Linked DNA regions of Homo sapiens. The protein of the gene in region 2 interacts with the protein of the main gene of each other region in a biochemical or structural test. Each region holds a gene or a part of one and is shown on either strand. Other genes may lie near its edges. The genes, in order: NUCKS1, RAD51AP1, DMC1 and WDR48.

Region 1 (7,912 bases), on a different chromosome or scaffold from region 2:
GTGACTATGGCAGTTCGAAAAAGAAAAACAAAAAGATGGTTAAGAAGTCCAAACCTGAAAGAAAAGAAAAGAAAATGCCCAAACCCAGACTAAAGGCTACAGGTAATTTCTGCAGAAGTGAAATTAAATTTACTGCTTTAAAAATTTTGAGAATCATTATTTTCAATACAGAAATTCCTCATTAGGATTTGGCATTGGCCTGATGTTTAGCAGGAATACAAGAAATCTAAAAGGGTCTTGTATTCTGCAACTGGAAGTATCTCTTATTAATAAAGACACTAGCCTGTTTAAGAGTCTAGTGGGCTTAGCCATGTTCTTCAACTACTGCCAGTACTTGAGCAAGATTTCAGAATGATCTATTTGTTTCAGACACAGTGGTAGAAACACTGTGTCATCATAGTTGTTACTGCTCTTTTTTCCTCACTGGTATCACAGTCTCAGCAGCCAGCAAAGACTTAATTGTGAAAATGCACAAACCTAGAGTAATACGTTTAAGTTCCACGTTCTGAACTCTACCCCATCCTCTGTGCTATCAGAATAAAACCACACTTGATGACATGAGTTGATTTTTTTCTGAGCCCTAATGGTTTCTCCTCGTTGGAGCTAGTTTGTTAACTAAATCAGAAATCAATTTGCTTTTTGTGTAGGTGGTTTTATTCTGTTAGGTAGAACTAGTCATTGTTAAACTTCTGTTTATCACTTCCTACTGTTAGGAATGATGGAACTATCAAATGTTATTTGATGGCTTTAGTTTCTGATCAGATTAATTCTTTTCCTTCCGTCTTTTTGACCTGCTTTTTATAAACAACTTTTATCATAAACAACTGTTAGTTTACCAAGCAATTAAGGATGTTGTGCATATTCTATAGCATGGTGCTTCTTCTTTACAGGTATTACTGCTAACATCATAGAGTGTTGGTAAAAACTGATGGGAAATACTGTAGCATAGTGTAGTAACTTATGACCAGTTTAGAAACTGAGATAGATTTACCTAGGGATATATGTGCTCCCTTGTGCCCACCTTGGTTTTTAGTAAGTTGCATATTGTCTTTATAGATTTTATTCTTACAGATTGTTGTATTTTGTAGCTGACTTTTATTAAAGACATTTTTTTCTCTTCCCTTCCCCAAATTATTTTTCTATTTTCAGTGACGCCAAGTCCAGTGAAAGGCAAAGGGAAAGTGGGTCGCCCCACAGCTTCAAAGGCATCAAAGGAAAAGACTCCTTCTCCCAAAGAAGAAGATGAGGAACCGGAAAGCCCGCCAGAAAAGAAAACATCTACAAGCCCCCCACCCGAGAAATCTGGGGATGAAGGGTCTGAAGATGAAGCCCCTTCTGGGGAGGATTAAAAGTGATGATGGTCTGGGGAGAGATTTTATTAAAAAAAAAAAGAAAAAAAAAGAAAAAAGAGGGAGGAAAAAAAAGAACCTACTTAAGATAGAACATGGTTTTGGCTATGGCTTGACTCATGGGCTTTCAGTGCTTTTTTCCATTTGTTGAAAGTAACATTTCTCTCTCTCTCTCTTTTTTTTTTTTTTTTTTTAAAGCAAACCATTGTATGTGTAAGTGTTTAAGTTACCTTTTTGTCTATTGGTCTCTTTGCCAGCCCTCCCCTTTCCCAATGAAAGCCATGTCAAATTAATCACTGGATTGACTGCTTCATCTTTTTATTTTTAATGAAAGGTGTACCACGGTTGTAAAGCAATAAGATTTGAGATGAACACTATTGAAACTTCGCTTTTTGCTAAAAAATAGCAAGTTGAATAGTAATCAAAAAACATAGAAAGATTTTAGTTCAAAATGATTGCTCCTTTCTCTACCTGGACTTTTAAAAAATCAATTGTCATCTAATATGAGTTTATTTGTCTATAGACACAAGTATCAATGTCTAAAAAAAATCATGACTTTAAACTTCCACCGATGAGGCAGGTAGGAGATAAAGATGAATTCTGAACTGTTACTAAAAGTACTCATTTTTTACCTTGTAGGGAGGGTGGGCAATGGGGTTACCTGACCTTATTTGAGGGTATGGGCTTTCTTTTTTATTTCATCACTTGTTATCTCAAAGAGACTCGGAGCCAGTGATCCTTTTATCCTGCTACAGTCTTTAGGGAGCTAAAAAAAAAAAAAAAGCAGGGGCTGCCAAAACTCTTGATTTCATATTTCCTTCTCTAAATATATATGTATCCTGTTTTTTGGATAAAATTTTACCAAGAATCCAAAAAAAAAAAAACCCTAGAATTTAATCAACAAGATCAGTCTACAGGTCACAGTGGATTTCTTTTCAAACTGACAATGTTTAGGTTTTAAGCAAATAAAGTTCCAGTTAATGTGAAACTCAGTCACAAAGAGTTGAGATTTTTCCTTTATGAAATAGAATTGACATTCTTTTATGCTATAAATGTGCATTCAGGTCCCATTAACCATGCTCTGCTTTTATTTGGGGATAGAACATTTTCTTTTTCATATCCCGATCTTCCCATTTCTTCATAGAAATGTGATAAGAAGTACATCCCTGTGATCCTGCTGCTTCGTAGAGCACCACTGCACACCCTACCCCGAGTGCCAACCACCTCTGCTATAGGACACTATTTTCCTGGCCCTATTCTTCACTTACTTCCCATCCTGTCCTTGACTAGGAATATGTTAAATGCTGCTCCCATACAATTCAGTTAGCTCTTGTCTTTTTATTTGGTCCAACCCCTGCTTTACTGCTCATGCTGCTTAAAGCAGGAGGGACTAGAGAAACAAGGCATTTTAGGAGGCCTGTGTGCAGTTGAAAACCGACTTTTACACGCCTTATAAAAGCAGTCAGGAGATAGATCCGTAGGTTTGATCCTTCACATCTAATACCAGGCGCTAATGGGAACAAGGTTTAAAGGGTCCTGGTATGCTAATAAATTGAAAAATTAGTGAAATTTAAACTTCTGCCTTTTTTTCCTGCCTTTTAATCTAGATTTGCTTCCTCAATATCCTACTTTGTGGTTTACTAGGAACATGCTTACTCTGATCTTTTTTTAAAAAACACACAGTGGCAGAGTCATTTCACTATTGCACTGTGTGTTAAAGAATGAATAAGGAGTTTTCAGTTACATGGCCAAAAATACAGGACTTGAACATAAATAGCAGTTGGATCATTCTCTTTCATGACGGTTAAATTCAGAGGTGTGAACTTTGTAATGAGGGTGTTAAAGATTAATCTATTTGCCTAAATGGGTTTGTTCAGGTATCCATTTTTAACAAAGAAGTTTGTGTTCATATAGTAAAAGACCTATCAGTGTTTCCACCATGCACTTCTATTTTTTAGGAGTTTATAATTTTAAGTCTTACATTCCTAGTAACATTTGGGCTTTTCTTAGGTTATGTTTCGTGAAGATTTGGGGGGAGGGCTCTTTTAAAACTTCAGCCTCAGTTGTTTAACAGTCTCTTTAATATATTAATCTGCACTAACATCTCTGTGATATATGCACATATTTTAGAGGTAATCATGTCTTCTAGATTACTTGTGTGCATTTGATTGGGCTTCTTGTTTAGGGTCCCTTTTAAAATTAATTCATTAGATTGAAAAATGTATTCTATATTTCTGATAGACTGGACAGAAGGATCTGTGTCCCCAAGTGAGACAGGCTCTGAATAACCTTTGTTTTCTCCACTTTTTATTGATGATTTAAAACACTCTAGTCTTCCCCTCAAATCATGCATGCAAATAGGAGGACAGTGGTGGTGACTCAACTGGATACAGGTGCTCAATAGTCAGGCTTGATAGTGATGTCAGGACGCATTACAAGCTGTAAGCCGATACTGACTGGCCATTGGCACCATCCTTGACTAACCTTCCTCTTTTTCTCTAGTGTGCCTATGGTGAAATGGCAATAGCATTCACTGTCGTATTTTGCAGTGCTCAGGAAGTGGGACGTTAACTTTGAAGGTGCTTGTTTGTATTAGCTCTGCTAGGTTTACCTCTACAACGTAGATTTCAGCAGCTATGCTGACTGACACTACATTCTAGTTCTTAAGATTTTTTTTCCAGATCCCCCCTTCCCCAGCTAGACATACGTAGCATACTTTCATCTTATTCAGTCTTTCTGTAACCTGCTGCTGCTTTTAGTCCTCCTCACCTCAGATCGGAATCAATGGAGTGGGCCCAGAGGATACATTTTAATTCCAGTAATGGTAGGTAGATTTGTCCTGCTTTCTAAAACATCTCCTCATTTCATATTTCCACTCCATATTGATTCCATAAGGGAAAATTAATGGGTGTTTCCTCCTTTAGGGAGGTAATGCAAAGAGTGTGGACATCTTCTAATCTTGAGGAACAGTAGTTGATTTCCCTTGAAGGAGCTTACATATTGACTGTTTTCACAATAACCTGTTTGCCCCAGTTCAATCCTCATTTTAATACTTAATTTGGTACTGGCTCAAATAGCATTTTCTTACAGATAACAAATCAAGAGTGAAATTTGAGGTTATACTCCAGTAAAGTTTTTAACACTTGTGAATATGGTCAGCTAGACTAAACTTGACTCTTTTTTTTAATGGCTTTTTTATCTGTGAACATTCAGATAAGTGGATTTTCAAGTACTGGTTGGGGATGGGAATCGTGCTTTTCTTTAAACTTCAGTTTACGAGATGCTTTGAGAGCGTTAGGCAAAAGCAGAAATAAATATCAGGAGCAACGGGGAAAGCTTTATAAAAGATCATGGTGGCCACTGTTGCAGCTTTGAAGAATGAGTGCTGGCTTGAACAGTTCTTTGCCTGCATCATTGGTAGCTGCACTGAAAGGAAAAAACTTTCACCTTAAGAATTTGAAAAGGAAGAAACCTGGGCTCTGGTCTTCATGGCATTTAGACTGAGATGCTTAAACAGAACAGAAGTAATACGCATTTCCTGCCATAGGATAGGGAAAATGTAACAAGCTGGTTGCTCTTGAGGTTAGAAAATTGTCTGTTTCTCTGTGGATGAAGCTGGATTTACTTGAAAATGGAGAGTTGGCTTATTGTTTGAATATTGGGACATCAAGCTATCTATAGCCAAGTTTCAGTCGCAACCAGTTTTCCCTTTGTCTGGGGTAAATTCGATACAAAATGATTCTTTTTGAATCCTGAATCCATAAATTACACTTTTTTTTTTCAAATTCACAAAATTCACAGTGGTGCTGACTGTGTAATAACCACTATTGGGAAACATCCCGTAAACCTGCCTGTTGCCATGCCAATGGAGTGACTGAACTGGTGACATCTGTTTGAGCATGCTTTGTGTGGCTGGTAGAATGCCACCGTTGTGCATACACTTTGTACATCAGGGGTGAAGGGAGGGTTTTCTAGATTATTGGGGGAGGGTAAAATTGGGATTTTTTTGTTGTTCCTTTTTTGATGGGGTGTGGGGGTATAGTACTCAGCTTATGCCCTAAAATAACATGTATAAAAACCCCTGAAGTATTGTGTGGGTGTGTACGTGTGAGTGTGTGTTTGTATACATCTGGCAATTAAAGCTTTGTCTTCTGGAACTTAGTGAATTCTTTTCTCTTTTTCCTCCAGAAGTATTTGTTACAAGATTTGTAAATAAGAGCTCTACTTAGTTTGTTTACCATGAACATGTTGCAGCAAACCTTATGCATCTAATTCCTACAAGGTTAAAGAAAGGCTTTTAGACTTGCCAGGTTAAGCAACAGCCAAGTTCTCAGTAATTGTTTGCCTTGATTTATCTTTTAGACTTCATTTTGCCAGCTCTAAAACTCCCAGTCTTCCTTGATTTTAGTCCTTAATCTTTTATGTTCTGAGCAGGAAGGGTAAAAGACAGGAACCTGCTTCACTGTATTAACTAGTCCATGGGCTGAGACCGGGGCATCTCTTTTCTTCATACTGCAATGTTGCTAGATACATGATCAGACACCAGAGGGTTGGGCATTCTTGCAATACCTTAACAGTGCTGAAATCTGCAGCATGGTACTAAGGAAGTTAAAGTTTGAATGTAACCACTTTATTTAAAAGGTTTTTTTCTTTAATTTAAATGAAATGGGGTTGAAGTGAACATGATTTTGTTGACCATGTTCGTGAATTACAGATGCAACATGCATTGGTAGAATCGTGTGATGGTCTTTTGTGATACTTAATTTTTACATATCCCAGTCTCTGTATGTATCTGCATAGACAAAGAAAAAACAAACTCCTGCTTTGCTTTTATTGAAGGGTTTCCAGGACTGCGTGTCTGCTCCTGAGCTCTGTTTTAAGTATGTGTATCCTTTGCTTGTATTTTGTATTAAAAAAATAAGAAAAAGAAGCCTTTATTGTTGAGCATGTTGGCATTGTCCCCTTTATTTTTTTCTCTTTTTGGGACATATGAAGCAAGTTATTCTTTTTCTGTATCTTTTTTTCTTTTGTAAACTTTTTTTTTGTTTTGTTTAAAAATGGCTTTATAAAAGGGCTTTTATAACCCAGATGTGTGCTCTGTGTACTTCTTGTAATACCTTAAAGCAAACACACTAACTTACACAGCTTTGTTAATCAGCTCCCAGTTCAGCCTGACTTTGTGGGAACTTATTTCCCTAATAAATTATTTAGAAACTTTAACAGTGACCATCCCTGTTGTTGGTAAAAGATAAACATGTCTTGGTTCAAAAGTTAATACCTCAGGATGGAATCAAGAAGCAGTAGACTTACCAGTTTGATTAATTAAGGGAGCACTGGACTGGGTGCGTAAGGATTCTTAATTAGCATTTTTTCTCATGTTTACATCCAAGGTTATGAAGTGTTGTGGAAAGCAAAGTTTAACAATCATATATAATAAAAGATAATGTTTATACTCACAGAACACACTTGCATTCAATTCCAAATACCCATAAGAACTACGCTGAATTTTGAATTAAAGATTACTTGTTAGGTGGACAATGTGGTACAAGATCCCTCTTTAGAACTGGGCTGATATTGTAGCTATTAGGGCTTTTTTCTTTTTAACTTTTCCTCTTGTTTACATACTTGCCTTGTCAGCCAAATACTATAATTGAAATGCAAATTTGGCTTTGAAATTAAATGCTTTGTGCATCCTGTTATCCGTCAGTGACTAGCTAACTTTTTAAATTTCTTTCTTTCTTTTTTTTTTTTTTTTTTTTGAGATGGAGTCTTGCTCTTGTCGCCCAGGCTGGAGTGCAATGACATGATCTCAGCTCACTGCAAACTCCACCTCCCGGGTTCAAGTGATTCTCCTGCCTCAGCCTCCCAAGTAGCTGGGATTACAGGCATACACCACCACACCTGGCTAATTTTTGTATTTTTAGTACAGACGGGGTTTCACTATGTTGGCCAGGCTGGTCTTGAACTCCTGATCTCAAGTGATCTGCCCACCTCGGCCTCCCAAAGTTCTAGGATTATAGGCGTGAGCCACCCCTCCCGGCCATTTTATTCTTTTTCGGAGATATGAGAGTCTTGCTATGTTGCCTGGGCTGGTCTCAAATTCCTGGACTCAAGGGATCCTCCTGCTTCAGCTCCCCCAGTAGCTCAGATTACAGGTGCAGGCACACTGCCCACATACATTTATTTCTTAATATAATGAGTTGTCTCAGGTTAAAGTTGAATTTGGATGAGCATTAACCATCTACTTTTCCTCATAATCCTTAAGTATTTTATGGATAACATAGACAATTTTATGTTTCAGGACAGTGCTGAAGAAATGCAGTCTGATTTAAAGGATTTCAAAAACCAACAAGTGGATAAACAGATGAAGAGAGGTTAAAACACACTTGGAGCTACCTAGACTCCTATCCATGAACATCGGTATACAGTACTACACTGTAGTTGTGCAACACATATTACCTCATTTAATTTTTCCAACAACTGTGAGATCGGCAAGTGTTTGTTCTTCCAATATTGTAAAGAATAACCTGGTTCAGGTAAGATGAGGTTTTATGTGGTACCTG
Region 2 (8,051 bases):
AATGCAAAACAGTCTTTTTTCATGTATTTCCGTTGTTCCAGAAGGACAGGAGCTGTTTGTTTTTTTCACTATTGTATCCCTAGTATCTAGAATATAATGCACATAAAAAGCATTCAAATATTAGTCGAATAAGTGACGATGAGCAAATCTGTTATTGTTTGTTGATAGTATATCAAAATCTAAAATATGGTATCTTGATTTGGCCTACATTTATGAATTTATGAATTTAAATTTTTAATTAATATGTTATAATGTTCTGTCAAGGTCACTACACTTTCCATTTGCCCAATTTCTAAATGAGTCTAAAAACCATCATAATAAAATATAGATTTCATATCACTTCTGCCTCAGAATAATTCATGGATTTCTACTACCTCCAGGAAAAAAAAGCCTACACTTCTTCCAGTGGGTCTGAGACCCTCCCTGATTAGTACCAGCCTCCCTCTCGAGCCTCTTCCATGTTCATCCCAGCAAGCCTCAGTTAGAGACAAATAGAGCATTTGTCTATTCCACAGGTAATGCCTTTCTGTTAGTCAGAAATGCTACTTTACACCTTTAGTTTGTTGAAACGCTACTCATTTTTCAAGGCATAGCTTAAAGGTTAACTCGTAGAAAAAACTTTTTCCCCAAATGCTATCACTGAATTGAACTGTTCTGTGTGTCCCTGAAGTTTGCACACCCCAAAGGTTTAACACAGTGCTTTGCACAATTAATAGCTTCCAAGAACTTTTTTGACTGAATTCCCATAGAATTAATTTCGAAGTAGAATAAAACCTACCAGGTGCAAAGTCTGGTTCAGTGTCATTAGCACTATCACCATCACTGCCTTCCAGAAGAATCTTCCTCTGCTGTGCTGCAGCTTTAGATGCTGCTTTTCTTTTCCCTTGAACACCACCAACATCATCTTCCACAGTAATCTTATCCAAATCTTCAGGAGAGGCATAAAAATCAATGGAAAACTTTCTGTGACAACTGATATTTCAAGAACTGCAGACCAGACTCTATTACAGCTATTGTTTTTATTTGCCCAGGTTCATCCCTCCCATGCTTCCAGTAATAGACTATTAGCCCAATCTGGGTCAACCATGGTACATCAGTGCCCTGGGAACACCTCTAGTTTTAGGGATAAATCCAAGACCCAAACAGAGATAATCTTTCCCCCAAAATTTTCAAACTAGAATTGGGAATATGCAGCCCCTTTCTTCAAAGGTCAGTTGCTCCAACTAGAAGCCACGGGTAGTTATGACCCTTCAGGGAAGAATGTGTGTCTGCAGTACGACAGAATGAGACTAAAACACAAAGAAATAAAGGCCATGACATCAAGAGAGTCTTGACAAATTTAAAGAACTTGCTTCTAGCCACAATTTCAGCAATTTAAACAAAAGTCAGAGAAACAGCATTGTTGATGAGAAAAATTATTAATATAAAAAACTTACCTAAATAATCACTGGCTACACTGCAATTAGAGATATGAGGAGACTTATTCATTGTTTCTATTTTACTACTGCCATGTTTTTCAATGCCTAAATATAAGGAATAAGAAAGAAAATTCAGATATATCTTAATCAATGTCTAGATATAGGAAAATTAGTACTAAAATGTAATAGCATTTAGATATAAATAAATGATCCCAAACTCCAACTGGCACAATAATTTTATTCAGAGAGGTTAACATATGGTTAGAAGTCTGGGCTCTGAAATCTAACATGTTTAAATTCAGGCTCTACCATGTAAACTGGCTATATGACCATGGGCAAGTTGCTTATCCTAAGACTGAATTTCCTCATCTATAATGTGGAGATAAAAATAGTGTCTTACCCAGTGGTATTACAGAAGACCAAATGTGGATCTCACATAGGAATTGCTTATTATTGTGCCTAATATACAGGAAATGGTCAATAAACTATCAATTCTGTGTAGGCAAATCCATGCTTTTACTAACGTTAAGAACTCTCCAATCGTTATAATAACCTTAAAATGACCCAAAGCATTCTAAGAGGACTTTAAGACATAATAATTGGTACTATTAAATTCCAATGCTATAAGGTGCATTATTTAATAAGAAATGGTATAATATTAATACTTCTAAGGAACTCCCCTTATACATTCTACAATGTCTTAAAAGAGAGAGATGAATTTCAGTGCCTCCATTTTAAATGTAATTCATGATAATTCTCTTTTGATGTTTCTTTGATTCTTGGTTACTAAAAGTCTTCCTAATCAAACTTTCATTTCTTTTTAAAGAGGAGGCAGCCAGATAAGGTGGCTCTCGCCTGTAATCCCAGCACTTTGGGAGGCTGAGGCAGGAGGATTGCTTGAGGCTGGGAGTTTGAGGGCAGCATGCGCAACATAGTGAGACCCCTCTCTACAAAATAAAAAATTAGCCAGGCATGGCGGCACATGCCTGTAGTCCCGGCTACTCAGGAGGCTGAGGCAGGAGGACTGCTTGAGCCTAGGAGGTCAAGGTTGTATTGAGCCATGATCATGCCACTGTATTCCTGCCTGGATGACAGAGAGAGACCCTGTCTCAAATAAATAAATAAATAAGGAGGCAGTACTGATTTAAGAAACAAAGAAAAAAGCTCCATGTATACCCCTAAATAAGATAATAAGCTAAAATATCCCCCAACATAAAAACTTTAAGCCAAAAAGCATTTTAGCAGTAGAGTATCTTTTTCAGGAATAATGATTTCTGCCTCTCTAGAATATTAATATATTGCCAGAAAAATCAAAGGAGAAAATCAACAGAGAAATCCAAAAGCCATTCTCTTAAGTCTACTGAACTTGCTAACCAAATTAATACCTTTGACCTTTGTAAGTAATAAAAATTACCATAATTAGGGTATGTTTAACTGATCTGGAAAAAATGGAGATGGATTGTTAGGACTGTACAGATCAAATCATTTGATGAAGAAATTAAATGTTCACTGTACAACAACATATAATTCGAACACTGAGGCTCACAGTCCGTGCCCTCAAGCTTATTCTGGGTGTTAAGCAGAGATGTATGTCTGTTTGTATGAGATTTAGGCAGCTGAATTAAGAACTAAATCCAATCGTATTCTCTGCAAATGGGTCTATTTATAGTGCAAAGTATTCACATTTTACCTGTTTCCTCTGTGAAGGCCCACCCAAACAAATAATCACAAAAGCATTAAGAAGGTTTTAAAGCTAAATATACAGAAAATAAAGTTACTTTTATCTTGAGAGTTCTGCACATTAGTGGTGACTGTTGGAAGTTCCTTCACTGATAAAGCTAGTGCAACTTCTAAGTCTCTCTGGTAGAGCTTGTCATCTAAAGCCATCCTAAAATAGATACACAAGTAATAATGAGTTCTTCAAAATATCAATCTCAACTAAAGAGCAAAGTTTGAGATTTCTCCAAATTACTATTCAAGAGTTGCTAACTTCGCAAAAATGTTTTTAAACAATCATCATTAATAGACCTTTGATGATAAGATAAGACTCCTAAAATGTCACAGTATCATGTTACATACAGAATAAGAGGTTTGAAATAGGAGGACCATGTGCCTCTTTGCAATGACTGTTCCCTTTCATTGTAATGTGTCACCTTACTACCAGCTGTGTCCAGGTGGGAAACACCCTACTCAACCCAAAACAGACTTGGTTCAAACATCACTTCCACTTAAAACTCTTCCTTGACCTCACCCACTCCCCTTTAGCAGATTTTATAGCTCTTACATTAAATTAAAATTATTATCATTTTTTTACATCTCTTCCTCCCAATCCAGACTTTAACAAATATTTTACCAAGCACTTACTTTGTACAAGGCACTGCACTAGCTGGAATACTAAAAGTACCTTCAGGGAGTCTGCAATTAAAGGAGGAGGGTGGGGAAACAAGACATGCTAATAATTATCCTATAAAAGGCAGACTATAAAGTCCTATTCAAGCTGCTCAAAAGTGCTATGGAGTATAAGAGGAAGAAAACGTCAAAGACAGATAAGGAAAAGTTACATAAAGGAAGAAGCACTGAGATGTACCTTAAAGAATTTATTTTTTTAGAATAACAGTTTTCTTAAGATATAATTCACATATCATAAAGTTTACCTTTTAAAGTAAACAATTCAGCAGTTTTTAGTACATTCACAGAGCTGTAAAACCACCAACACTACCTAATTTCAGAACATCTTTATTACCCCAAAAAGAAACCCCATACCCATTAGCATTCACTTCCTGTTTACCCCTCTCCCCTCCTAGCAACCATTAATCTGCTTTCCGTTTCTATGGATTTGCCTATTCTGGACATTTCATGCAAATGAAATCATGTAATATGTGACCTGTATATCTGGCTTCTTTCACTCAGAATGATGTTTCCAAGGTTCATCCATATTGCAGTATATATCAGTTATCAGTTGTCATTTCTTTCTATGGCTGAAAAATATTCCATTTTGTGGAAACCACATTTTACTTATCCATTCATTAGCAGATAGACATTTAGATTGCCTCCATTTTTTTTTAGCTATTATGAATAATGTTGCTGTGAACATTCATGTATGGGTTTTTGTGTGGGCATATGTTTTCATTTCTCTTGGATACATACATAGGCTGGGTCATGTAATAACTCTGTTTAACATTTTGAGGAACTGCTAAACCATTTTCCAATTTAGCTGCACCATTTTACTTTCCCACCAGCAATATATGAGGGTTCAAATTTCTCCACATTCCTTGTCTTTTGTATTAAGTCATCTAGTGGGTGTGAAGTATTATCTCATTCTGATTTTGATTTGCATTGCCCTCACAGCTAATGATATTGAGCATCTTTTCATGTGTTTATTGGTTATTTGTTTATCTTCTCTGGAGAAAGTCTATTGAAATCTTTTGCACATTTTAAATTGTGTTGTTAGTCTTTTTACTGTTGAGTTTTACGAGTTCTGTGTATACTCTGGATACAGTCCCTTATCAGTTATCTGATTTACAAATATTTTCTCCCACGTGTGGGTTCCTTTTTCTATATATTTAAAATGTAATACAAGAAACTCACAAACAAAAACCAAAAAAAAGAAAAGCAAAAAAGAGCATGACATGAGGTAAGTTTCTCCAGGCTAACTCACTTTTCATAGAGAAACTTGTGGCAGTAAAACATTATATATGCCATGTTCCATTTGTTAATATTCCCCTTCCGCCCATCTCTTCTCCATACTGCAAGTTTTGGGTCTCTAAGGACTTCCTTCACTCCTTTCTGCCTCTTGATACTATCTAATGGAATTCCACGGTTAGTCTAGAAACTATGGGAACTTCTCACTGCTGGATAAATCTTAACAACATGGGGAGAAGACATCTTTTTCTGCAAGAAAATACATGGTTTTATATTTTAAAAACTGTCCTCATATTAAGTCATCTTGTGTCTTAATCATCTTAAGTCATCTAATGTCATTTTTAACAAAGTAGTCTCGTATGATTTGAGGAATTCAGAGATAAGTGCTGGGTCCTGTCAAAACCAGTCATAACTTCTGAATTCTACAATCATTATTGTCTTAATATTTAATGATACTTCCTTGAATGTTTGTGAATTTCTTTAAGTCAGAAAGCCAGAAAAAAATAGTACGTCCTGTTTTCTGACTGCACCTAGTAAAATAAGACCTATGACTCTGCCCAAGTTCTAATTTAAATCAAGGGTTCGAATCTGTGTCTCTTTAAAATTAACACATCTAATGTCATATATTTACTGCATGTCTTACCTCTCACCTTTTTTTAGGGGTTTTCTCTTGTACTGGGATTTCTTCTTTCCGGAGATTGTTCAAGTTAGGTTTTGGTTTATCTTGTTTTAACTCCTTTGGTGCTGTTCTGGATTTCTTGTTTAAAGGTACAGTTGCAGAAACAAAATCATCTATTCATGTGTGAATTAAAACCAAAAGAAAAATATTATTTTCTTCATAAATGAAAATCATTACCATGTGTGTTCAAGTTTTTATAGGCTAGGCAAATTGTTTAATTTCCACAATTTAAAAATCATTGTTAGTATTTTGTTTATCTTTACTCTCATTTATCTATTTCGACTTTTGTTTTTGTGCCCTTTATATTTAAAAATATCAGTCTATCAAAAACCAATTCACTAAAAACTGCAAAAGCAATTAAGACAGCATATAAGTGTCAAAGAAAAAATGATTAAAAACCTGTAAAACCATTAGAAAAATTGGTAGAATTTAATCACATTGAAAAGTGGAAATAAATTATTTTTATGGGAACTTCACAATGTAGCCAAATATCTTTTTTCAAAGCCCATTACTTGGGCCAGGCACAGTGGCTCACACTTGTAATCCCAGCACTTTGGGAGGCCAAGGCGGGCAGATCACCTGAAGTCACGAGTTCAAGACCAGCCTGGCCAAAGTGGTGAAACCCTGTCTCTACTAAAAAATACAAAAATTAGCCAGGCATGGTGGCGGACACCTATAATCCCAGCTACTCAGGAGGTGAGGTGGGAGAATCGCTTGAACCTGGGAGGCAGAGGTTGCAGTGAGCCAAGATCGCGCTGTTGCACTCTAGCCTAGGTGCAAGAGTGAGACTCCGTCTCAAAAAAAAGAGAAAAAAAAGCCCATTACCTATTCCTAGTACATTAACCATGCTAGAGGAAATAAGCATTATGGGGGGAAGAGAAAGTAGCTCCTATTTGAGGATTTTTACAATAGTAGTATTTTCTCTTTCCATTACCATAATGATCTTCCTAAGATCCTACCAAAGTAACTTCTTATTTTCTTGCAAAAGGATGTTCTTTTCCAGTCCATTACTGTTTCTCACAGGTTTTTCTGTCTTACCAATCCTCTGAACTGTTGTAGTTCTACTCTTGACTGTCAACGTAAAACTACTGCTGTGGCTTTTCCACATGTATACAACACATATATGCATACTTTCAGGGTCTATGCAGTCTTCATCACATACTCAGCAAGCACTAATACTTGTTGTCTCTTATATGCTTCCCCATGTAAAAATAAGATAACTTAGGACTCCCCCCACCTACTACTACACACCTGGCAATTTATAAGTATCTGATGACAGACTGATGACAAAAAAAAAAAAAAAGCTAGATGTTATACTCTACACTCTTTTTCCCAAGTGGTAGATACAGTTAAGGCTGTGCTCAAGGCAAAAACAGATTCCTTCAAACCGAAGACTTACTAAATATTTGACTTACAGAAAACTCTAGTGGTCTAAGAAAGAAATATTAAATCCACTTCAACATATAACATAATCTAATGCAATGTTCCTCAAACTTTTCAATCATAGCAGAGTCAAGTAAACATATGACTAATGCTTAAAAGGCATAACATAAGCCTAACCTTTCTTCAAGGTCTTGTTTTATAGTACAATTAATAGGGATTTTATATAATATGCTGTAACATCTTTGTATCTCAAAAAGACAGTGTTTTCCTTCTTCAGGGATGGAATAGGAGACAAACCTCTATGTTGCAACTATGGACTTTAGAGTAGTTTAGATCTAAAGAGACTTTTCACCTGGCCTGTTCATTTATCACCTACTAACATAATTTTTATCAGTATAATTATCAGCATAATTATCCCAAATGATTAGAAAACTATCTTTCCAGACCTACCTCATATGCATTTGGGCAATTTAGTCAGTGTTTGAGCTATATATGTCATATAAATTCCGAGGAAATGAGTTTCCAAATCTTTAGAACAAAAATAAGAAGCTTTACTTACCATCACTGTCAGAGTGGTCAAACTGTGAGTAATTGACTGGTTTCTTATGTCTATGACCAAAACAGAATTTTTTCATTAACACAAATGTCAATTTCTCACCACTATTACTTAAGGCTATTAATGAATATTATTTATTTATTTAATATTATTCATTTATTAATAAATAATGAATAAACGAAATAAATAAAAATGTGTTAAATGAAATGTGTTTCAATAAATGAAAATGTGTTTGGGTTCAAGTAAGAATATTTAACTCTAAAACATGATTTGCATTTTACCGCGGGGATTTATCATTAGCTAAAATAGTTACAACTATACCTGATATACCTGGGTATTGTTGGCTTTTCAATTATATGATAAAGGAAAAAAA
Region 3 (7,787 bases), on a different chromosome or scaffold from region 2:
GTGATCCACCCACCTCGGCCTCTCAAAGTGCTGGGATTACTGGCGTGAGCTACCGCACCCAGCAGAATTTTACTTTTTCTTTAAGGGTCAATCCAAGATTACACTGCTTATGAATTAATTATATAATCATTTGCTCTCTTGTTTTCCTAAATATTAGTCTTTTCTCTTAACTAGTGTACACATGCTTTATGTGTAGGAACCACATTTTCCTTGTTTATTCTTTAGCGCTTAGCATTAATAATAATTAGTGAGTGAATAATTTCATGAATAATCAAATACCTTTTGTAACAAATGGTACTTCGAATACTTGAATTTTCTTCTCTTTCCTTCTTTTTTTTTTTGAGACAGAGTCTCACTCTGTGACCCAGGCTGGAGTGCAGTGGCTCTATCTTGGCTCAATGCAACCTCCACCTCCTGGGCTCCAGCAATCCTCCCACTTCAGCTTCCTGAGTAGCTGGGACCTCAGGCACACACCAGCACGCCTGGCTAATTTTTTTGTATTTTTGTAGAGACGGGGTTTTGCCATATTGCCCAGGCTGGTCTTCAAACTCCTGGGCTCAAGCAATTCACTCGCCTTGGCCTCCCAAAGAGCTGGGATTATAGGTGTGAGCCACCACGCCCAGCCCTGGAATTTTCATGTAAGTTGATGTAACATTAAAGTCTATAAAGATTGAAGTCTATAAAGCTCTTCATTGTATATTGTCATTAGTATATTAATTTTTACATATTTTCACCATACATGCATTTTGAAAACAGGATTTTATTTGTTTAACAATCAAAATAATATCTTTTACACATTTCTAAGATTAGTATTCAGAAATTTTACATTTAAATTAATTTTAACATTTTAAAAAAGTTTTTTTTTTTTTTTTGAGACGGAGTCTCACTCTGTCACCTAGGCTGGAGTGCAGTGGTGCCATCTTGGCTCACCGCAATCTCTGCCTCCTGGGTTCAAGCAATTCTCCTGCCTCAGCCTCCAGAGTAGCTGGGATTACAAGCACATGCCACTGCACTTGGCTAATTTTTGTATTTTTAGTAGAGATGGGGTTTCTCCATGTTGGCCAGGCTGGTCTTGAACTCCTGACCTCAAGTGATCCACCTGCCTCGGCCTCCCAAAGTGCTGGGATTACAGGTGTGAGCCACCACGCCCAGCCATAAATACATTTTTTAAAAGTAATTTCTGCTTGTCAAAGTCAAATGATTTAAAATTTGGCTTAATTTAATGTCTGTTTTCTGTTGCTATAAAGGTGAATATGCAGTTTGATATTATAAATAGAAAGAGCTTTTGTGTGTGTGTCCTATAAACATTCCTCCCTTAAATCCTCTTGTGGAAAAACATCTAGCTATGTAAGTCAGTGGCACTATACCCTAGAAAAATGGTGAAGGGAAAGTCCTTAGGAGAATGGGACATTTCTGAACTCTTAGACTTTCTGTTTAGTGGCTCACTTTGAAAAGTGAAAGGGAGGGAATCACGTACTCCTTTCCCAACAACTAGTTTTCCATAGGTATATATACATACACAGAGTGAGAGAATTTCAATAGGTATATATATCTACTATATATGTCAGGTATACACACACAAACACACACACACACAAACATACATATACATATCCCTGAATTTACATACAATGTATAGTTATCATAAATCAGGGACTTTTAAGATAAATATAAGATTTAAATCTCTTTGCTGACTTTTCTTTAGTAACATGTGGGAAAAAACCTCTATTTCAAGATGTGAAATTGGAGACTGCTTTTCCATTTCTTCAGCTCCTAATAAGCACTAAGAAGCAATTTGCATCAATTCACCACCTACTCCTTGGCATCCCCAATTCCTCCAGCAGTTATTGCGAAGGTGGCTTCATTTTCAGGCATCTCAGGACTAACAGAATACAAGGGAACAGAAGTTTATAAAAAGCTCTATTTCTATAAATACTATATTCATGTCACAGGCATTATGTGCCCATCAGTCTGAATCTCCAGAGACATCTCAGAGTTGGTACAACCAAATGTGGCCTACAGAACTTACCCACAAGTATTATTAACCCTCACAAACATTTATTGAGCAACTTCTATATATAAAGTTCTGAATGTCAAGAAAAATTACTCCAAACTTGGAAACAGGTGAAAGGATAACTGGATGTTCTTTCATTTATTTATTTTAATTTTTTTTTTTTGGCGAAGTCTTGCTCTTGTCCCCCAGGCAATGGTGAGATCTCGTCTCACTGCAACCTCTGCCTCCTGGGTTCAAGCCATTCTCCTGCCTCAGCCTCCTGAGTAGCTGGGATTACAGGTGCCTGCCACCACGCCCGGCTAATTTTTGTATTTTTAGTAGAGACGGGGTTTCACCATGTTGGCCAGGCTGGTCTTGAACTCCTGACCTCAGGTGATCCGCCTGCCTCGGCCTCCCAAAGTACTGGGATTACAGGCGTGAGCCACTGCGCCTGGCCAACTGGATGTTCTTTTAGTATAGTGTCAGGCATTGTATAGCAGCCCCTTAGAGGTTTATCTGATTCTATAGGGGTATGCACCTTTCTTATGACTAGACTAATGTAGGAGCAAACTGTAAAATACTTTGAAATAAATTAAAAGATTACTGAGTACCTTCCATGGAAACATAGGTTGTCTAGCACATCCTCCCAGGTTATCCAATTCTTTTTTGTTTTTTGTTTTTGTTTTTTTTTTTTGAGACGGAGTCTCACTCTGTCGCCCGGGCTGGAGTGCAGTGGCGCGATCTCGGCTAGTCTCAAACTTCTGGCCTCAGGTGATCCGCCCACCTCGGCCTCCCAAAAGTGCTAGGATTACAGGTGTGAGCCACTGTGCCGGGCCAAAATCTGTAATTCTTAATTAAACACGTAAAGTGCTGAGAAAGAATATAGGGTATAATATACTGAGTAGCCTAGACTGTAAGGGTTAGGGAAAGGTTCCCTGAGAAAGTGATGTTTAAACTGAAACCTGAAAAACAAATAGAGTTAACCTGGCAAAAAGAAAGGAGGATATGTTCCCATACTTGATACTTACCTTGTATTTAACACAATTTAATTGGAATTGATGATTTCATTATCTAGGTGTATGCTTTGAAAGGTCAGGGACCAAGTCTATGTGTCAATAGAATCCCTCAATCCCTAGTACCTAGTAACAGTAGGGACTTCCCAATAAATTGAATAATTTTTTAGAAAGAAATTCAAACACACAGCATCTGGCAGTAATAATTACAGCCTTGTGGTGGCTCACACCTATAGTCCCAGCACTTTGGGAGCCCAAGGTGGGAGGATTGCTTGAGCCTAGGAGTTTGAGACCAGCTCGGGCAACATGGCAAAACCCCGTCTCTACACACACACACACACACACACACACACACACACACACACACACACACACAAAATAAAAAAAAATTTACCTGTCATAAATCTTGGCAATTCTGAGCTCTCCTCTTCCCTTTCGCAAGCTTATTCTTGTTGTTGAAGCATGAGCCAGAATGTGTCCCCCAATGGGTTTTTTGGGATCTGCCTGAAAGCTGAATTAATAAAATACTCTTTCAGGTTTCATCATATGGACTATATATGGCAATATCTGCAATTACAAGGCAATCTTTCTGTGGTGGATGTCAGGAGTTGGAATAAGTGTATATTCTAAACAAGCAGAGGCTTGTTCATAAACTAAGGAGTGAGGTGAGTTTTGGAGCTGCTATATACCCCATCTAGTCTAGGCTTTTGAGATTCCTATGATAAATAGTTTATATTTTGTTTGACTTTTTTTTTTTGAGATGGAGTCTAGCTGTGTCGCCCAGGCTGGAGTGCAGTGGTGTGATCTCACTCACTGCAACCTCTGCCTCCTGGGTTCAAGCGATTCTCCTGTCTCAGCCTCCCAGGTAGCTGGGATTACAGGTGCCCACCACCACGCCCAGCTAATTTTTTGTATTTTTAGTAGAGATGAGGTTTCACTGTGTTGGCCAGGCTGGTCTCGAACTCCTGACCTCATGATCTGCCCGCCTGGGCCTCCCAAAGTGCTGGGGTTACAAGCACGAGCCACTGTGCCCAGCCTGACTTTAAAAAATGAGATTACTGGCTGGGCTCGGTGGCTCGTGCCTGTAATCCCAGCACTTTGGGAGGTCGAGGTGGGTGGATCACTGAGGTCAGAAGTTCGAGACTAGCCTGGCCAACATGGCAAAAACCCATCTCTACTAAAAATACAAAAATTAGCCAGGTGTGGTGGCGTGTGCCTGATGCTTGTAATCCCAGCTACTCTGGAGGCTGAGGCAAGAGAATTGTTTGAACCCAAGAGGTGGAGGCTGCAGTTAGCTGAGATCAGCCACTGCATTCCAGCCTGGGCAACAGAATAAGACTCCTTCTCAAAAAACAAACAAACAAAAACAGAAAGAAAAAAAGAAAATGTGGGCTTAGAAATCATCAATAAGGGAACAGCACAAACTAAAGGTTATACTTGATCAAAATAAACTATGATATAGAATAATAGCTTCAGTTCTGAAAGAATATAGTTACAAGTCAATTCAAGTTGTGCTTGCTCCATTAAAGTGTTCATGATTCTGGTTTTACTCTAAGCTTCAGGCTTGGTATAGCAAGGATGTAGCTGATTGGCATGAGGTTAAATATATTTAGACTGTAGGTTGGTCGGGATAAGAAGCTCTTTGGTAAAGGAGTTTGCTGAGATAAACTGCTACTTGATTAAATGGCTCAGAGGTTAGGACCAGAAGACCCCTGGTTGGTGCTGAATAGGATTAAGATTCAGTAGAAACTGGACACTATGGCACATATCTGTAGTCCCAGCTACTTGAGAGGCTGAAGCAGGAGGACCACTTGAGCCCAGGAATTCAGAGGCTAGCCTGGGCACCATAGTGAGGCCCTCTTAAAAACATTTTTAAAAAAATGTTTTAAATGCAAATGCAGCAGGTCCAACATAGGAACAAGGACAAAGAGTTAGTTTTGGAGTGAACCACTATCAAGAAAGTAGTAGCCAGACAGTTGAGACTAACGGCGGCAGTTAAGAAGTCAGAAAGCTGGGTTGCTTTGCCAGGCACCTGACATGGTAGTAAAGCAATAAAGCCTTCTCAGTTGGATAAAATAGCTAGATAAGTGAGTTGTCTCTATAATGCTTACAGATCGATGCCACTTAACTTTTCAGGTCACCCTACCTTACAGGTGGTTCTTCATGGTTTTAAAATAATCTTATGTTCTATATAGATGGGCTGCTTGAGACCCTGAGGATATTCTCAACTGAGCTATGAACTCCGAGCCTGCAAACACTGTATTTATGCTTCTGTAATGTACTTTTCATGTTCTGCCTTTAGTACTATTATTTATTTACTTATTGTATTCCTTCTCAATTCCTCTCTTATTCTCTATCACTAAGCTCCTTAAGGGCAGACTATATTGTGTTTAGTTCTGCACAACCAGGCACACAGTGGGTGTTCAAAATTGTTTTTTCAGCTACGTGGGAGGCTGAGGCAGGAGAATCGCTTGAACTCGGAAGGCGGAGGCTGCAGTGAGCTGAGATTGCGCCACTGTACTCTAGCCTGGGTGACAGAGTGGGACTCTGTCTCAGAAAAAAAAAAATAGTTTTTTCAGCTTAAGATATTTATGCTACAACAATTCCAAGGGGAATATTGGACTGCAAAAAGATTGGTGTTTTCACAGAAGTTAAGAAAAAATAAAATTGAGACCAGTTGGAAATTTCTATCAAAAGGAGCTAAGAACGGATAGTCAAGGTTAGCTAAATGGGCAGAGAGAAGTCTGAACACAATGCTACTGCTTCTCCCAGCTAGTCTCTCAATGCTGCTCATTCTCCTGTGTGAGCATGGTTGGCTTTACTGCCTCACCTTCAGTAGTCTCCTTAAGCCCCCTTTTCCATTCTTATCCCCTCACCTTGGATGACATTGCCTGCTACTTTATAAAGAAAATAAGGGCTTGGCCGGGCACAGTGGCTCATGCCTGTAATCCCAGCACTTTGGGAGGCTGAGGCAGGCAGATTGCAAGGTCAGGAGTTTGAGACCAGCCTGGCCAATATGGTGAAACCTTGTCTCTACTAAAAATACAAAAATTAGCTGGGTGTGGTGGCGTGCACCTGCAGTCCCAGCTACTCAGGAAGCTGAGGCAGAAGAATCACTTGAACCCAGGAGGCAGAGGTTGCAGTGAGCTGATCGCGCCACCGGTGGCCCTCCAGCCCAGGCGACAGAGCGAGATTCCGTCTCAAAAAAATAAAATAAAACAAAATAAAATAAAATAAAACTAATAAATAAAAAAGAAAATAAGGGCTCTCAGGAGGACACTTCCTCAACTTCTTCTTTCTGTCCACCACCTATATACTTAACTACAGTTGTACTCATGTTTTCTCCTTCCCTCTAAAACTTCCTTTTTTCTGATTTCAGAAAGTCTTCTTATCCTTGATGACTTTGCACACATTACTCCCTCTGAAATGAAAGCTCCTTTCCCCACCGTGTCTGCTCATTCAGCTCCTACACAGCCTTCAAGTGTCCTCCCTTCTAGGAACCCTTGCCTGGTTCCCTGAAACAGTAGAAAACTGGCCCCCTCTGTGCTTTCCAACAGTCTGTATTCTTTTATTAAAGCACACTACAGGTGGGCGCAGTAGCACTTTGGGAGGCCGAGGCGGGCGGATCACCTGAGGTCAGGGGTTCAAGATCAGCCTGACCAACATGGAGAAACCCCGTCTCTACTAAAAATACAAAATTAGCCGGGTGTGGTGGCACATGCCCGTAATCCCAGCTACTCAGGAGGCGGAGGCAGGAGAATCGCTTGAACCTGGGAGGCAGAGGTTGTGGTGAGCTGAGATCGCACCATTGCACTCCAGCCTGGGCAACAAGAGCCAGACTACGTCTCAAAATAAATAAATAAATTAATTAATTAATTAAGCACACTACATGGTAATTTTAAATGTATGGGTCTTATTCCCCAACTATACTCTAAATATCTGTTCATCTTTGAAACTCCAGCGCCTGGAAAAGTGCCTATAATATACAGGGTACTCCATAAATATTGCAGAATGAATACAGAGATGACAATTTGGGACTCCCTGGTCTAGGTCCTTCTTGGACACAGATTTGTGTCATATCTTCAAAACTGTAATTCAGGGAACTTTTGAAGAGTGTTCTGACAGAGGCAAATATAAAAGAAGATAGATTCCCCCAGTTGAAGCACCATGCCTCCCATGCCATTATAGATAACCTAAACAAGACTGGGAAGCTAGAGCTTCTAGATGTATAGCCATGATTTTTTTTTCTTAGCAAACTATTGTTTGCTGTTACTAGTGTGGTACCCAATGTGCAAAAAAGAATAGAGACAATTGCTTGTCATTACTGTAGGTGAAGAGCCTGAATGTTAAGAACATTATTTCCAAAAGGAGATGATTTTGAATCACCCAAATGGGGAAATAAATTATAGCATTTGCAAAAGGGCAAAGAAAACATATAGGAATGAGGCTGGGCAGAGTGGCTCACACCTGTAATCCCAGCCCTTTGGGAGGCTGCGGCAGGTAGATCCCTTGAGCCCAGGAGTTCAAGACCAGTCTGGACAACATGGTAAAACCCCATCTCTACAAAAATACAACAATTATCTGGGCATGGCGGTGCATGCCTGGAGTCCTGGCTACTCAGGAGGCTGACGCAGGAAGATCTCTCAAGTCCAGGAAGTTGAGGCTGCGGTGAGTGTTCATTGTGCCACTACACTCCAGTCACTCCAGCCTGGGTGACAGAGCAAGACCTTGTCTCAAAAATAAAATAAAATACATAAAATAAAAGAAAAAAAAAGAAAAAG
Region 4 (8,051 bases), on a different chromosome or scaffold from region 2:
CGAATAACATAGGAAACCTGACAAATGTGTCAACATATGCTTTTTATAAAGTACAAGCCATGCAGTAATAAAATATAGTCTACTAGTGGCCAATCTGAAACAGAAAATCCCATGTTTTCCAATATGTACTTTTTCAACCCAATACAAATTTAAATTTTACTCCTTAAAGACTAAAGGGCTGAAGAGAAGGATGGTATCAATGATAGCCTAGTCCAACATGAGTAAGTTGCTAAACTACTATAACTGCTTCCTGACTGGACTCCTTTCCCAGTCTTTAGTCCATTTTTCACAAAGCAGCTAGAGTAATTATTTAAAAATCTATCTCAGCTCTGCTCAAAAACCTCCAGTTGCTGACTACTAGACTCATGATTGGATGTAAATTCCTTAACATGGTCTCAAGTACCCTGTTTGTCTTTCTGGCCACTCATCTCTGCTCCAGGTTCTGGTGCATTGTGCCTCCAGACCATCACACATGCTGGTCCTCTCTGTTTGGAAGCTCTTCCTCCGACCTGTCTGGCTAACTCTTGTTGCAGCCTTCAGGTTTCCATTTAAACAATACTTCCTTTAGAAGGCCTTCCCTGACTTGCCAAGCAAAATGAGGTTTTGAGCTCCTATCACATACTAAACTTTTTCTTCAGGGCATTTTCCCCTACTTTGTTACTGTTGGTGACCTCTGTCTGTTCCTTGTGAAAACAGGGGATCAACTGAAAACAATTACACCTAAGAAAAAGTCAATAAGCTGGCTGGCAGCCAGAAGTAAAACTTTCTAATGTAATGAAATAAACAGTTAAAAATTAACTCAAGATGGACTAAAGACTTAAATGTTAAGACTTAAAACCATAAAAACCCTAGAAGAAAACCTAGGCAATACAATTCAGGACACAGGCATGGGCAAAGACTTCATGACTAAAACACCAAAAGCAATGGCAACAAAAGCCAAAATTGACAAATGAGATCTAATTAAACTAAAGAGCTTATGCACAGCAAAAGAAACTATCATCAGAGTGAACAGGCAACCTACAGAATGGGAGAAAATTTTTGCAATCTACCCATCTGACAAAGGGCTAATATACAGAATCTACAAAGAACTTAAACAAATGTACAACAACAACAACAACAAAAACAACCCCATCAAAAAGTGGGCAAAGGATATGAACAGACACTTCTCAAAAGAAGACATTTCTGCAGCAGACACAAGAAAAAATGCTCATCATCACTGGCCATCAGAGAAATGCAAATCAAAACCACAATGAGATACCATCTCATGCCAGTTAGAGTGGCAGTCATTAAAAAGTCAGGAAACAACAGATGCTGGAGAGGATGTGGAGAAATAGGAATGCTTTTACACTGTTGGTGGGAGTGTAAAGTAGTTCAACCACTGTGGAAGACAGTGTGGCGATTCCTCAAGAATCTACAACTAGAAATACCATTTGACCCGGCCATCCCATTACTGAGTATATACCCAAAGGATTATAAATCATTCTACTATAAAGAAACATGCCCACGTATGTTTATTGCAGCACTATTCACAATAGCAAAGACTTGGAACCAACCCAAATGTCCATCAATGATAGACTGAATTAAGAAAATGTGGCACATATACACCATGGAATACTATGCAGCCATAAAAAAGGATGAGTTCATGTCCTTTGCAGGGACATGGATGAAGCCAGAAACCATCATTCTCAGCAAACTATCACAAGGACAGAAAACCAAACACCACATGTTCTCACTCGTAAGTGGGAGCTGAACAATGAGAACACATGGACACAGGGCAGGGAACATCACACACTGGGGCATGTTGGGGGGTAGGGGGCTGGGGGAGGGATAGCATTAGGAGAAATACCTAATGTAAATAACAAGTTGATGGGTGCAACAAACCAACATGGCACATGTATACTTATGTAACAAACCTGCACGTTGTGCACATGTACCCTAGAACTTGAAGTATAATAATTAAAAAAAATTATCTCAAGTACCTATAGTGATTCTATTAGGAACAATTATACCCTTTCTCCACATCTTAAACCAAAAACGAATTTTTCTATGAATTAAAGACTGAAATTTAATAACCATAAAAATAATTTTTGTTTTTATTTTTTGAGAGAATCTTGCTCTGTCACCCAGGCTGGAAAGCAGTGGCCCGATCTTGGCTTACTACATCCTCTACCTCCCAGGTTCAAGCAATTCTCGTGCCTCAGCCTCCTGAGTAGCTGGGATTACAGGCATATGCCACTGTGCCCAGCTGATTTTTGCATTTTTAGTAGAGATGGTGGTTTCACCATGTTGGCCAGGCTGGGTTTCAAGTGGTCCACCCGCCTCAGCCTCCCAAAGTGCTGGGATTACAGGCGTGAGCCACTGCACCTGGCCAGCATAAAAATAATTTTTAAAAGACAGGTGAATATTTACATAGTCCCTTGCCAGAGAAAACTCTTCCAACATGCCAAGAAAGATGGTAATCTTTACGAAGGAAAAGAGCAATGGTGATCTGGCCAAATACAAGTCAAAACCTTTTCTATGTACAAGAATGTTCACAGCATTGTGGCATTCACAATAATGTTACAAAAGTGGAAACAACCCAAATATCCATCAATGGACAAAACAAATAAAATGTGATGTGTGTGTGTGCATATATATATATATATATGCACACACACACACTGTACTGACACATGCTATAACGTGGATGAACCTTGAAAATGTGCTAAGTGAAAGAAGCCACATATTTTACAAAAGGCCACATATTTTATGACTCTATTTATATATAATGTCTAGGATAGACAAATCCACACAGAAAGTAGATTAGTAATTGCCAGGAGATTGAAGGAGGGAAAAATGAAAAACGGGGAGTAATTGCTAATGAACATAGAGTAATTAAACATTCTGGAGTTAGGTGACCAATAAACAACTTTCCGAATATACAAAAAAATCACTGAATTGTACACTTTGAAAGGGTGCACTTTATGGTATGTGAATTTTATCACAATGTTATTATTTTCTTAAACCTTCTGAATGTCAAAAAGTAACACGAGCAAGACTAAGAGAATAATGAAATAAATATGAAAGAAAGTTTACTCTTAACAAGATTCCTTATAAAATAAGAAAAAGTCAAATTTACCAACAGAAAGAGGGACAGTTACAAAAAGGGACTTTTTAAAAAAGAAATGGCCAAAAACCCCATAAATAATCAAAGACAAAATTAATATGAGATTATTTTACCTATAATACAAGAATTTTTTAAAATAACTGCCATTTTTGTTTCCCCTGAGGATAAATAAACACTTTCTGACAAAAGTTTTAAACTCTTTGAAATGTTCTTTAAAATTCAATTTCCAGAAATTTGTCCTTTAAAAAGGGCCAGGGCTGCAGACACAAATAGCTACAAGGATGTTGTTTTAACCCAGTCTTTTGGATGCAATTAACTGTAACTGAGATCTACTCAAACCAGCTTTTGTTTGTTTGTTTGTTTTTTAAAGGAGACTTCAACACAAGGATATCTTAACAGAGCCCAAGGTCAGGAAATACAGTCATCATTTATAAGAGGCATTTAAAAAATCAAATCATGACACTTCTCTGCTGAAACTTTCCAATGGCTTTTCACAAAATTTAAAGTTCAAACTCCTCAAATGCTTAGTTCTGACCCTGCATCCCCCACTCATTTCAAACTGACTGCCCCCAGCTTCTTTTATGACAGTCATTCCAAACTCCTTTCTGTTACCGTAAACACATCAAGCTCTTTCCCATCCCAGTACCTTCTCATTTACTGTTGCCAGTGTCATGAAGATTCACCACCCCTCGAATCCCTATAGGAATACTCTTTCTCCAGCTTTCATCTTGTCTAACTCACCCTTACTCTTCAGATCTTAGGAGAAAGGTCTCCTTGGAAAGGCCTTTCTGATCTCATTCTCCTCAGGGTTATGACCCTATCTATCTTACATTACTTATTTAACAGTTCTTACCACATTCTGTATTTTTTTTTTTTTTTTTTTTTTGAGACGGAGTCTCACTGTATCGCCCAGGCTGGAGTGCAGTGGTGCGATCTTGGCTCACTGCAACCTCTGCTGCCCAGGTTCAAGCAATTCTCCCAACTCAGGCTCCCGAGTAGCTTAGATTACAGGTGCCTGCTATGGCGCCCAGCTAATTTTTGTATTTTTAGTAGAGACAGGGTTTCGCCATCTTGGCCAGGCTGGTCTTAAACTCCTGACCTTCTGATCCACCCACCTTGGCCTCCCAAAATGCTGGGATTACAGGTGTGAGCCACCGCGCCCAGCCACATTTATATTTTTTGGTGTATCTTCTCCATTAGAATAATAGCTCCAAGAAGGCAAGGGACTTGTCTGCCTTGTTCCTTCCACCCCTGTGCCCCCATTATAGTGTCTGGCATATAAAAGACATACGTATCATTGCATGAATTGGCTTTCCAAAGCCACCAGGAACCAAGCTAGCTTCAATGTCAACTTCAGCCTCTCTCAATCTCTCTTTCTCTGGGGTTCCAGGGCTGCTTACCTAGCTCACATTTCCTTTAACTGAGACTGTGCAGCATATCTAAATCTTGATATCCAGACTTCTGGGAGATTATCTGACTGGTTAAGGCAAGAGTGAAAGAATAACCTGAATGTCAGAATTCTCATTCTAGGTGGAAAGTAATTACTGTTAAAACCAGTCTGGGCCAACCTCTTCAACGGTATTTCCTAAAGACGTGTGCTTTAAAATGCAAAAGAATTAGAAGTATCCTAGTTGGATAAATTCTAGCACGCACATCTGTAAAACACAACACTATTCAATCACTTAAAATGTTGATGTAGGCCAGGTGTGGTGGCTCATGCCTGTAATCTCTGTGCTTTAGGAGGCTGAGGTGGGAAGACTGCTTGAGCCCAGGAGCTTGAGGCTGCAGTGAGCTATGATGGCACCACTGTACTACAACCTGGGCAACAGCATGAGAGCCCTGTTTCTAAAGAATAAGAAAGAGTTGATGGAGGTCTAGACTGATAAACATGGGCGGAAAGCCATGATATATTTTTAGTGAAATATGTGTGGTCCAACACAACAATGTACAATAGTCATTATTATAAAAATGTTTCAAAATATTAAATATTTCAGAACAAATACACAAGTTTTGAAGACTATACATATATAAAAATAACCAGGGGCCAGGCGCAGTGGCTCATGCCTGTAATCCCAGCTTTGGGAGGCCAAGGCGGGCAGATCACGAGGTCAGGAGATCAAGACCATCCTGGCCAACATGGTGAAACCCCGTCTCTACTAAAAATACAAAAATTAGACGGGTGTGGTGGTGCGCACCTGTAGTCCCAGCTAGTCAGGAGGCTGAGGCAGGAGAATCACTTGAACCCAGGAAGCAGAGGTTGCAGTGAGCCATGACGGTGCCACTGCACTCCAGCCTTAAGACAGAGTGAGACAATGTCTCAAAAAAATAAAAATAAAAATAAAATAAAATAACCAGCAGTTATTTCTGAATGATGGGATTATGGTGATTTTTCACTCATTCATGTCTCTTTCATGTGTTCTGAATGTTTTACAAACAACATGTATTACTTAGTTTTTAAAATTTGATCATTTGTTATCCAAGTAATTCCTGCTTGTATTTAGAAAATCAAATAGTAATGACTGTAATGAAAAACAGTCTCTCTACTGTCTGGATAAGACTCCCACACCTAGTCTTCATCCCTAAAGGTAACTAATTGCAACTCAGTTGTTGCTACTGGATAGTTAACTGCATTTCTCTAAATATTGTGCTTATCCTATAACTTTTTGGCTCATCCATTTTAGACATTATCGATTTACTCATGCTACTGTAGATTAGGATGTAGTTCTGAAACTACCCTCAATATCTCCTCCCTCTACTCTTCTAATATAGATACATCCCTATTTTTAATTGAACAAATAATCCGTGCTATATTGTTGTGACTGTAAGGCTATCTACTAAGTACTATATTATGAATACATTTCCTTCCTCAAAGAGCTTTTTGTTTTCCCTAGAGTTTTAATTTTTCCTTCTTCAATGGTTTTCTCCACTTTAATTTCAATTTTAATTGCTGTACCACAGAACTCACCCCCACCCCTTTATTTTCTCAGAAGGCTTCCCCCTCCAAACCCTCCTTCTTCTCATTACAATCTAGGCTGACTGCCCTCTAGATCTGCTGGCACAGCTGTCACCTTTGGTGTTTTCCTTTACTGCTTTTCTGGGTTACAGCCATTGTTTCCTGAATTCTAATGCCTCCTTCTTTCTTTGTTCACTCCATAGTTTTGCTGAAATACATCCCCAATACCTTAAGAAAGTAATATAAGAAAAGGCACATGGGTTGGCAACTTAGTCCTTGCATGCCTGAAAAGGTCTTTCCTCCACATTTACACTTGATTTAGCAATTCTCTCAGCTCTTGAAAGCATTGCTGTAAGTTCCTCTAGCATCCAATGTTGCCACTGATTTCAATGCCATTCTGTTTCATACAGCTTTAAAGGGATCCTATTTTCATTCTTTCCTCCACTCCCTCGTCATCTCCTTCCCTAAGCTTTCAGGATTTTCTCTTTTTCCTTGGTGTTGTGACATTTCTTGTTTGTTTTTTCTATCATTAGTTTTTCTGTGCATTTAGAAAGCCCCTTCGATCTAGAAATTTGCGGCACTTAAGCTCCGGGAAATTTTCTTGTATCCATTATTAATCATCATCTCTGTTTTCTTTGCTCTTTCTTGAACTCAAATGAGTCAGATACTGGAACTTTCAAACTGATCCCTCATCTTTTATGCATTCTGTATTATCTATCTTTGTCCTTTCATTTATTTTTGTAACACTTCCTTTACTATTTTATAACTGGAGGTTTTTTCAAAGCAAATTATAGTATGATGGAAAAAAAATCAAAGCAATATCTTCAATAAGGAAATGGCTAGACAAATTATGGTACATCCATTCTATGTGGTCATTAAAGAACGAAAACTATATATGCTGATATGTTTCAAGACATGTCACCTTAAAAACTTGTTATCTGCATCCATTAAAGTACAGAGAAAAAATTTAAAATGTCTGGCTATAGAAAAATAGAGGAAAATGGATTTAATTCTTTCAACGAATATTAACTAGGCACCCACTTGTTGCCTGGCACTATTCTAAATGCTGAGGATACGGTAGTGAGCACAAAAGTCCTCTTGGCATTTAGCTGGGGAAAGAGCTTAACTAGAAGTGGCAGCAAGTTAAGCGAAGTATTTTTTTTCCCCAAGCACTGTGAAGCACTGAAGGAAGAGGCCATAACAGGAGGAAAAATGGAGGCACAGAGAGCCAATCAACAGACTCAGGTTGCTGGAAAATCATACCACCAAGGGACTGCTAAGGATGGAAAAGACTTGCTTTGATATCCTGGTTACCAGAGAAAATGCTACATCATGTATCTGAATTCACATATTTGATTATGTTTCTGACAGTCACAAATCCATCCCTCTTCCCTCGTATCTCTAGTTTTCCTAGAAGTTGAAGATGGTAGGACATGGACTCATTTAAAATTATGTCTACAATTAATATGCAGTATGTTTGGACCCCTCTCCACTGATTTTAAGTATCATTTTATTTTATTTTTGAGATGGAGTCTCGCTCTGTCACCCAGGCTGGAGTGCACTGGTACAATCTCGGCCCACTGCAACCTCCGCCTCCTGGGTTCAAGCGATTCCCCTGTCTCAGCCTCCCAAGTACCTGGGATTACAGGCATGCGCCACCATGCCGGCAATTTTTATATTTTTAGTAGAGACGGGATTTCGCCATGTTGGCCAGGCTGGTCTCGAACTCCTGACCTCAAGTGATCTGCCCACCTTGGCCTCCCAAAGTGCTGGGATTACAGGCATGAGCCACCACGCCTGGCCTCCACTGATTATTTAGCAATATTTTTAAGTCTCAAGGGTTTGTCTTGGCCTACAACTTGACAAGGAGCTCAGGGCTACTGTCTCGTGGTCTGAGACAGTCAGGAGACAAAGTATATTTACTCCAAGTACCCATGTATGCTTTTTCCAAGATGAGAAGTTTTCTTTTTGATGTATAAGAGCAAATAATGT

The links.
Region 1: the proteins of RAD51AP1 (region 2) and NUCKS1 form a complex in vitro, tested with the Homo sapiens proteins (one study listed by BioGRID).
Region 3: the proteins of RAD51AP1 (region 2) and DMC1 form a complex in vitro, tested with the Homo sapiens proteins (2 studies listed by BioGRID and IntAct).
Region 4: the proteins of RAD51AP1 (region 2) and WDR48 form a complex in vitro, tested with the Homo sapiens proteins (one study listed by BioGRID).

The regions. Positions count from the first base shown.
Region 1 is NC_000001.11:205,711,717-205,719,628, reverse strand, and holds the end of NUCKS1 (nuclear ubiquitous casein and cyclin-dependent kinase substrate 1), read left to right. Parts: coding exon 1-102; intron 103-1,149; coding exon 1,150-1,349; 3' UTR 1,350-6,807; downstream 6,808-7,912.
Region 2 is NC_000012.12:4,541,564-4,549,614, reverse strand, and holds part of RAD51AP1 (RAD51-associated protein 1), read right to left. Parts: intron 7,732-8,051; coding exon 7,682-7,731; intron 5,853-7,681; coding exon 5,711-5,852; exon of another isoform or gene 5,704-5,710; intron 4,397-5,703; exon of another isoform or gene 4,350-4,396; coding exon of another isoform or gene 4,303-4,349; intron 3,834-4,302; coding exon of another isoform or gene 3,783-3,833; intron 3,307-3,782; coding exon 3,197-3,306; intron 1,524-3,196; coding exon 1,437-1,523; intron 929-1,436; coding exon 779-928; intron 1-778. UniProt on the Homo sapiens protein: Structure-specific DNA-binding protein involved in DNA repair by promoting RAD51-mediated homologous recombination.
Region 3 is NC_000022.11:38,518,208-38,525,994, forward strand, and holds the end of DMC1 (meiotic recombination protein DMC1/LIM15 homolog), read right to left. Parts: intron 3,518-7,787; coding exon 3,401-3,517; intron 1,883-3,400; coding exon 1,813-1,882; 3' UTR 741-1,812; downstream 1-740. UniProt on the Homo sapiens protein: Participates in meiotic recombination, specifically in homologous strand assimilation, which is required for the resolution of meiotic double-strand breaks.
Region 4 is NC_000003.12:39,055,016-39,063,066, reverse strand, and holds part of WDR48 (WD repeat-containing protein 48), read right to left. Parts: intron 18-8,051; coding exon 1-17. UniProt on the Homo sapiens protein: Regulator of deubiquitinating complexes, which acts as a strong activator of USP1, USP12 and USP46. Enhances the USP1-mediated deubiquitination of FANCD2; USP1 being almost inactive by itself.